Linked DNA regions of Homo sapiens. The protein of the gene in region 1 interacts with the protein of each later gene in a biochemical or structural test. Each region holds a gene or a part of one and is shown in the gene's direction. Other genes may lie near its edges.

What was found.
Region 2: the proteins of MAP3K12 (region 1) and MAPK8IP2 form a complex in vitro, tested with the Homo sapiens proteins (one study listed by BioGRID).

Annotation. Positions count from the first base shown.
Region 1 is NC_000012.12:53,485,958-53,489,763, reverse strand, and holds part of MAP3K12 (mitogen-activated protein kinase kinase kinase 12), read left to right. Parts: intron 1-2,335; 5' UTR 2,336-2,372; coding exon 2,373-2,817; intron 2,818-3,141; coding exon 3,142-3,325; intron 3,326-3,516; coding exon 3,517-3,708; intron 3,709-3,806.
Region 2 is NC_000022.11:50,607,128-50,610,933, forward strand, and holds part of MAPK8IP2 (C-Jun-amino-terminal kinase-interacting protein 2), read left to right. Parts: intron 1-3,084; coding exon 3,085-3,183; intron 3,184-3,579; coding exon 3,580-3,652; 3' UTR 3,653-3,806. UniProt on the Homo sapiens protein: The JNK-interacting protein (JIP) group of scaffold proteins selectively mediates JNK signaling by aggregating specific components of the MAPK cascade to form a functional JNK signaling module.

The DNA of each region.
Region 1 (3,806 bases):
TATTACAAGAACTATCAGAGTTTCCCAAGCCTCCTTGTGTGCCTGTGTAATCATCTACTGAACCCTTCTAGATGTAGAGATTCCTGCCACTCCTCCCCCACTGCAATTCAGAATGTATGGCAATCATTTCCAGACTAACCCAGGGGCTCATGGAAGGACCCTGCTAGCTATGAGGAACAATTAGAGGGATGCTTGTTCTTGGGAATCTTCAAATCTCAGGATCTGGTAACTGACAAGTGTGGAGTGAGTTGGGAGACCAGCATGGCGCCTGGGGCCAAGTTCTGGACAAGTCTGGTGTAGGATTAAGGGTTTGCTGTGCCTTAGTGACAGCCAGTTTATTCCTTTGTATAGCTGAGGCTCAACTACAGCTCGCCTGAGGTCACATAGCCATTATGTGGCAGAAGCAAGTCAGGATTCAGGGTTTTTGTTTGTTTGTTTGTTTTTTGAGACGGGGTTTGGCTACTTCGCCCAGGCTGGGATTCAGTGGCTTACTGCAACCTCCGCCACCTGGGCTCAAGCAATCATCTCACCTCAGCCTCCAGAGGAGCTGGGACCACAGTCACAGGATCACCATGCCCAGCTTTGTTGTTTTTTGTTTGTTTGTTTGTTTCTATTTTTGGTAGAGACAGGGTTTTGCCATGTTGCCCAGGCTGGTCTCAAACTTTTTTTTTTTTTTTTTTTTTTGAGACAGAGTTTCACTCTGTCGCCCAAGGCTGGAGTGCAGTGGTGTGATCTTGGCTTACTGCAACCTCACCTCTGGGGTTCAAGTGATTCTCCTGCCTCAGCCTCCCGAGTAGCTGGGATTACAGGCATCCACCACCACGCCCAGCTAATTTTTTCTTTTTAAGTAGAGACAGGGTTTCGCCATGTTGGCCAGGCTGGTCTCAAACTCCTGACCTCAAGCGATCCACCCACCTCAGCCTCCCAAAGTGCTAGGATTACAGGCGTGAGCCACTGCGCCCAGCCAAGGTCTCAAACTCTTGAGCTCAAGTGATCCACCTGCCTCAGCCTCCCAAAGTGTTGAGATTACAGGCATGAGCCAACACACCGTGCCAGATTCAGGTTTTTTAATGGTTGCTTTTTATTTATTTATATATTTTTTTAGACAGAGTTTCGCTCTTGTTGCCCAGGCTGGAGTGCAGTGGCATGATCTTGGCTCACCAAAACCTCAGCCTCCCGGGTTTAAGCAATTCTTCTGCCTCAGCCTCCCAAGTAGCTGGGATTACAGGCATGTGCCACCACGCCTAGCTAATTTTGTATTTTTAGTAGAGACGGGGTTTCTCCATGTTGACCAGACTGGTCTCGAATTCCTGACCTCAGGTGATCCGCCCGCCTCGGCCTCTGAAAGTGCTGAGATTACAGGTGTGAGCCACTGCACCCGGCCTAATGGTTGCTTTTTAAATAGCACCCAGCTATGAACTGGGACACATCTCCATTGCCTGGAAAGTTTGGGGAGCAGAGGATGGGGCAATGGAGAAGAGGAAAGAGAAGACAAGACCTTGTTTGACCCCTGGGAGAGCCGCTGGACTGAAGGGAGGGCCAAGGGGGATGAAGCAGTGGCCTTCTGTGACAGTGTCTGCATCCCCATTGGCTGCTTCTGCCTTTTTCCCCACCTGTGCTGGGGGGACAGAACTCTGTGGTTACAACCTTCACTTACCTTGGAGAGGCCCAGGGGTGTGTTTTAGAATGAGGCTCTCACCTGAGTTGAGTGTTCCTGAGAGGGCCTCAGTAGTACCGTGTGTAAGTACCTGGGTGGGAGGCCCGGGTGCATCGCCTGTGTGTAGGCAGCTCAAGAATGCTGTCCAAGGGTGTCTGAAAGGTTTACCAGCATCCTGTGTGTGCTTCAATGTGAAGGAGGTCTAGGTGTTACTATTGTGTGCCTGAGGTTGACCCCGAGGTAAAGGTGTAAATGTGAGACCCTTCTGATACCTGTGTGTGCCTGTGAGTCTCGGGTGAAAAAAATGTGCTGCAGCAATGAATTAGTCATCTTACAGGGAGAAGGGAACTCATCTGTTACCATTACTCTTGAATTTGAGACATATTTTACCAGTGTGTACCCACGTGGGGCTGTTACCTGAGAATGATACTCAGGTACGATACCTGTCTACCTATTACTTGCCTTACTAACATGCCTGAGAGGAAGCCCAAGTGTATCAGATTTCCTAAGATGGCTCAAGGTGCAATTTGGAGGGCCATGGGAAACGGAGCCACAAGTGTTACCTCCAGCGGGGCTACTGTGAACCCAGCACCCCAGTCTGTGCCTCTGGGATAAGTGTCCTGAGCAGGCAGTCCTGGGGCTTTAACAGCCCAGCCCCTCCTTCCTTCATTCCCACAGGGCCCAGTGTTCACCATCATACCAGGGGCCAGAGGCGATGGCTTGCCTCCATGAGACCCGAACACCCTCTCCTTCCTTTGGGGGCTTTGTGTCTACCCTAAGTGAGGCATCCATGCGCAAGCTGGACCCAGACACTTCTGACTGCACTCCCGAGAAGGACCTGACGCCTACCCAGTGTGTACTTCGAGATGTGGTACCCCTTGGTGGGCAGGGTGGGGGAGGGCCCAGCCCCTCCCCAGGTGGAGAGCCGCCCCCTGAGCCTTTTGCCAACAGTGTCCTGCAGCTACATGAGCAGGATGCAGGGGGCCCAGGGGGAGCAGCTGGGTCACCTGAGAGTCGGGCATCCAGAGTTCGAGCTGACGAGGTGCGACTGCAGTGCCAGAGTGGCAGTGGCTTCCTTGAGGGCCTCTTTGGCTGCCTGCGCCCTGTCTGGACCATGATTGGCAAAGCCTACTCCACTGAGCACAAGCAGCAGCAGGAAGGTAGGCCACGTCCTTGTGGGAGCCTCCTCTCTGTTTCCCTGAGCCCGAGATCTGTTGGTCAGCTCCGCTAAAGTCACGCAATGGTCCCTTCCCTCCCCATGGCCCAGCCCTAGTCCCTTAGCCATCCATCAGCCTCTAACTTCCCAGCTTCTTTTAAGGCCACCCATTCATTCCTTCCCTGTCCCCTCGAACCTTCTTCTTGGCCTATTTTTGGCTTTCTGCCTCACCCTCCTTAAGTCAATTCAGCCAACCCAATGCTATCCTGTCCCTGGCCTTGAGTGTGGCTCTTTCTGAGGCTTGTGGCACTGTGCCTCCTGCCCACAGACCTTTGGGAGGTCCCCTTTGAGGAAATCCTGGACCTGCAGTGGGTGGGCTCAGGGGCCCAGGGTGCTGTCTTCCTGGGGCGCTTCCACGGGGAGGAGGTGGCTGTGAAGAAGGTGCGAGACCTCAAAGAAACCGACATCAAGCACTTGCGAAAGCTGAAGCACCCCAACATCATCACTTTCAAGTGAGGTCCAGGGCAGGGGCTGGGTGTTGGGGATACTATGCTAAGGCCTGGTACCCTCCTGGGCAGTGGGACCTACCCCATCCTTCCCCAGAGGAGATCCATAGGTGGAATGGGTGGGAATGGGGGTTCCAGGTATGAATCAGGTGAATGCTGAGCCAGCTGAGGCCTTCATACCATTGTTTGGCTCCCAGGGGTGTGTGCACCCAGGCTCCCTGCTACTGCATCCTCATGGAGTTCTGCGCCCAGGGCCAGCTGTATGAGGTACTGCGGGCTGGCCGCCCTGTCACCCCCTCCTTACTGGTTGACTGGTCCATGGGCATCGCTGGTGGCATGAACTACCTGCACCTGCACAAGATTATCCACAGGGATCTCAAGTCACCCAAGTGAGTAAGCAAGCAGGGAGCAACAGATGTGCATGCAGGTGACCCACTCAAGTCAGTGTGGCCTTCTCCCGGCTTCCAAACCATGCCCTAGGTCCATG
Region 2 (3,806 bases), on another chromosome or scaffold:
GTGAGCTGAGCCTGCAGTGGCGCCTGCTCTGAGCTGGACTCAGGAGGCGTGGGTCAGACAGGCTTGCATCCAGTCTGGGTGGAGAGAGGCACACGGGCGAAGGATGTGAGAAGCCTGTGTGGGTGCAGAGGACGCCTGAGTGGGCCTGGGGCTCAGGATGGCCAGCCTGGAAACACAGCAGGTGACAGCGGTGGGGAAGTGGATCTTCCTGGTGGGGTCTAGCTGAGCCAAGGGTGTGGGATGCACTGGTCGGGGGCTATATAGGCTCTGGGGCCCGCGTGTAAGGGGAGCAGCTAGAAATGCCGGGGAAGACCTGGACCCTTTTGATTATGCCAAGGAGCTGTACTTAATCTTGCTGGTAATGAGGCCATAGAAGGCTCCTAATGGAAGGAGGTGACACAGGGGACCTGGGGGCTGCTGAGGTTATACAGGTGCTATGTCCTGAGACCAAGTGTGCAGATGCAAGAGGCACTGAAGAGGCAGTACAGGCAGGACCTAGGTTGACCGGCTGTAGAGGGTGACCTGGAAGAGACCAGGGTGACGTCTCCCTGGGGGATGGTTGTACTGCAGCCCACACACCGAGAGGGGATGCGGGATCAATCACAAACGGTGAGACTGAAGTGGCCGTTGGTCCCATGGGTCTGGAGTTTAGGAGGGAGACCTGGAGGGAAGATACCAGGTCAGAGCAGGTAGATCACTGAGACGAGAGGGGAATGGCCAGGCAGGGTGAGGGGAGGAGGGGAGGAGGAGGTGCTGGCATAGGAGCAGCAGGCCAAGGGGGGCTGCCAGCTTCCCTCCAGGCACAGGCCCCTGCCCTCTGTGTCCCAGCACCCTAGAGGAAGGAGATCTGGGAGGAACCAGAGAGGCAGAGCCAGCCAGAGGCTGGAAAGGACTTGCGGGGAGTTGGAGGAAGCAGGCTCACAGACAGGCAAGACACAGCAGGGCACGGTGCTGCCAGGACTGAGGCGTGGGACAGACGTCAGTGCATCTTGGGGGCCTTGTGGACTCTCCCTGTGGTCGAGAGTGAGGGTGCTGCCTGCTGGAAGGTGCGGAGCCCTTTTGTGTTGTCCCCGCCGAGTGCAGAGATGGTCTGATGGGATCCATGCGGAAACGCTGCTCAGTGGGGTGGAGAGGTGGGACAGCGGGCAGCGATGCAGACCAGACTGCGGGGCCAGCTCTGGGGTGGAGAGGTGGGACAGCGGGCAGGGGCGCAGACCAGACAGCGGGGCCAGCTCTGGGGTGGAAAGGTGGGACAGTGGGCAGGGGCGCAGACCAGACAGTGGGGCCAGCTCTGGGGTCACCAGGACAGCGAACGGGGCGCAGACCAGACAGCAGGGACAGCTCTGGGGTGGAGAGGTGGGACAGCGGGCAGGGGCGCAGACCAGACAGCGGGGCCAGCTCTGGGGTGGAGAGGTGGGACAGTGGGCAGGGGCGCAGACCAGACAGTGGGGCCAGCTCTGGGGTCACCGGGACAGCGAACGGGGCGCAGACCAGACAGCAGGGACAGCTCTGGGGTGGAGAGGTGGGACAGCGGGCAGGGGCGCAGACCAGACAGCAGGGACAGCTCTGGGGTGGAGAGGTGGGACAGTGGGCACGGGCGCAGACCAGACAGTGGGGCCAGCTCTGGGGTCACCGGGACAGCGGACGGGGCGCAGACCAGACGGTGGGGCCAGCTCTGGGGTCACTGGGACAGCGGACGGGGCGCAGACCAGACAGTGGGGACAGCTCTGGGGTCACTGGGACAGCGGACGCTGCCAGGAGAGGAAGAATGACCCAAATTTCTCATCAGAAGGAAACTGGGTGAAGCTCAGGTCTCAGGCTGGACAGGGCCCCAGCTAGAATTTCGTGAGAGGAAGGTGGTCAGTCGAGTTTGGGGTTTGGAGTCAAGATGTGGCAGGGGTGTGGGAGGAGGTGGAGGAGCTGCTGCCCTGGCCCAGACCTTCCTAATATTTGTCACCCCAGACCCCCCGTCCCCGGTCCCTTGCCACGAGGAGGCACGGACGAAACCGTGTGAGGTGAACGATGAACTCGTTTCTTCATGGCGGTGGTGGTAGGTCAGGAGAGCGTGGGGTGTGCTGTGTTGGGATCTGGCATTAGGATGTCTGGTGTTGGGATCACAGACTGTAGCCTTTTCTCCCAGGGCTGCCCATCCTGCCTGTGTGTCCTGGGCAAGCTCCTGAACCTCTGTGCCTAGCTCTCCATCAGGGCCCTACCTCAGAGGGCTGTTGTGAGGCTTCTGTGAGTTAATGGAAAGGGCAGAGGATGGTGCCTGAGTAATGCAGGAAGCCAGATCTGTGGGTCGGCGCTTATTACCATCATGACTTGAACGCGGCATTTGAGGCGGGCCCTGTGCTCTGTCTGTGGACAGCGTGCACACACTGTCCTGGCAAGCAGACCATCATGTGGCTTCCCATTTGGTGGAATCGCAAAGCCCCGAAGCCATGGGGGAATGGACGGGTCGGCCAGTTTCAGGGGTGGGGGTGGGGCAGCGTCCTGCTGCAGAACTCTGCCTGCCTCTCCCTCTGGACGACGATTTTTGATTTTTGCTAATGTCTGGGTGGAGGAGCTGGGCAGTGACTCCATGAGCGAGGCCCCGCAAGGAGCTGCTTTCCAGTGGGAGCGAGGGGTAGACCGGAAGAGGGTTTTACAGACCAGGGGTAACGTCCAGCCCCACCTCGGAGCTGGGCAAGGGGCTGTCAGTCTGCTAGGCCCGCAGGAGGAGGCCTGAGTTGGCAGGAGATATGGTCTCCAGTAGCCAGGCAGAGGCCTTGCTCTGTGGTCCTGGGGCAGGCCCTGAATAGGGCCACAGAGGGTAGCAGCACCGGCTCAGAGAAGGGAGAGTGGACGCCCCTGGTCATCATGGAATTAACTCAGAGCGTGAACTCTTGGTAGGTGCCCAGCCCTGTGCTTGGGCTGAAACCAAAAAAAGACAACTTCAGATCTTGAAATTGTGCGACCCCCACACTCCTGTCCCTTACCCTCTCCCCAAGCCCTTTGTTCCTGCCTCTTCTCTCTACATCATTTGTGGGGTGGCCAAGGCTGGGCCAGGGCTCTGACGTGCCCTCCACACTGACTTGCCCGCAGCTATTTCGGCTTCATCACCAAACACCCCCTGCTGAGCCGCTTCGCCTGCCACGTCTTTGTCTCCCAGGAGTCCATGAGGCCGGTGGCGCAGAGTGTGGGGTGAGTGGGGCCCCAGGGTGTGGGTGCAGAATGGGTGCAGGGTTACGGAGGTGGGGAGCGGAGGTGAGCAGGTGGGGGCAGGAGCCTGGCAGGGGAGGTCTGGGGAAGGAGAACCAGATGTGCTGTGTAGAGAGGGCAGTGGTGGGTGACAGTTTGGGGTGCTGGGCATGGGGTGGGAACAGGCACAGACACATGGCCCAGGCACTCTGGCAGGGGTAGAATTGCTGGGCCAGGAGAGCTGAGGGTCACACTTGGGGGTGACATGGCCATGCCTGGGTGGGGGGTTATGGATGGCTGCAGAGGGAGGAAGGAGGGAGAGCTCAGAGGCTCTGTGGAAGGCAGTTTGGGGGTTGAGGACCGGCCCTGAGTGGCTGGTGGAGGACCGTCTTTCCCCAGCCGCGCCTTCCTGGAGTACTACCAAGAGCACCTGGCGTACGCCTGCCCCACGGAGGACATCTACCTGGAGTAGCCTGCCCACCGCTCTGTCTCCTGGCCGTCTGCTCCAGGCGCAGCTGGGGCTGAGGATGTCTCAAGAGGCCACCATGGCTTTGGCAAGGACTGGATTGGGGGGACATGGGACCTTACGCTTGTGGGGGTCTGCGGGCTGGGAACTCTCGTCCTCG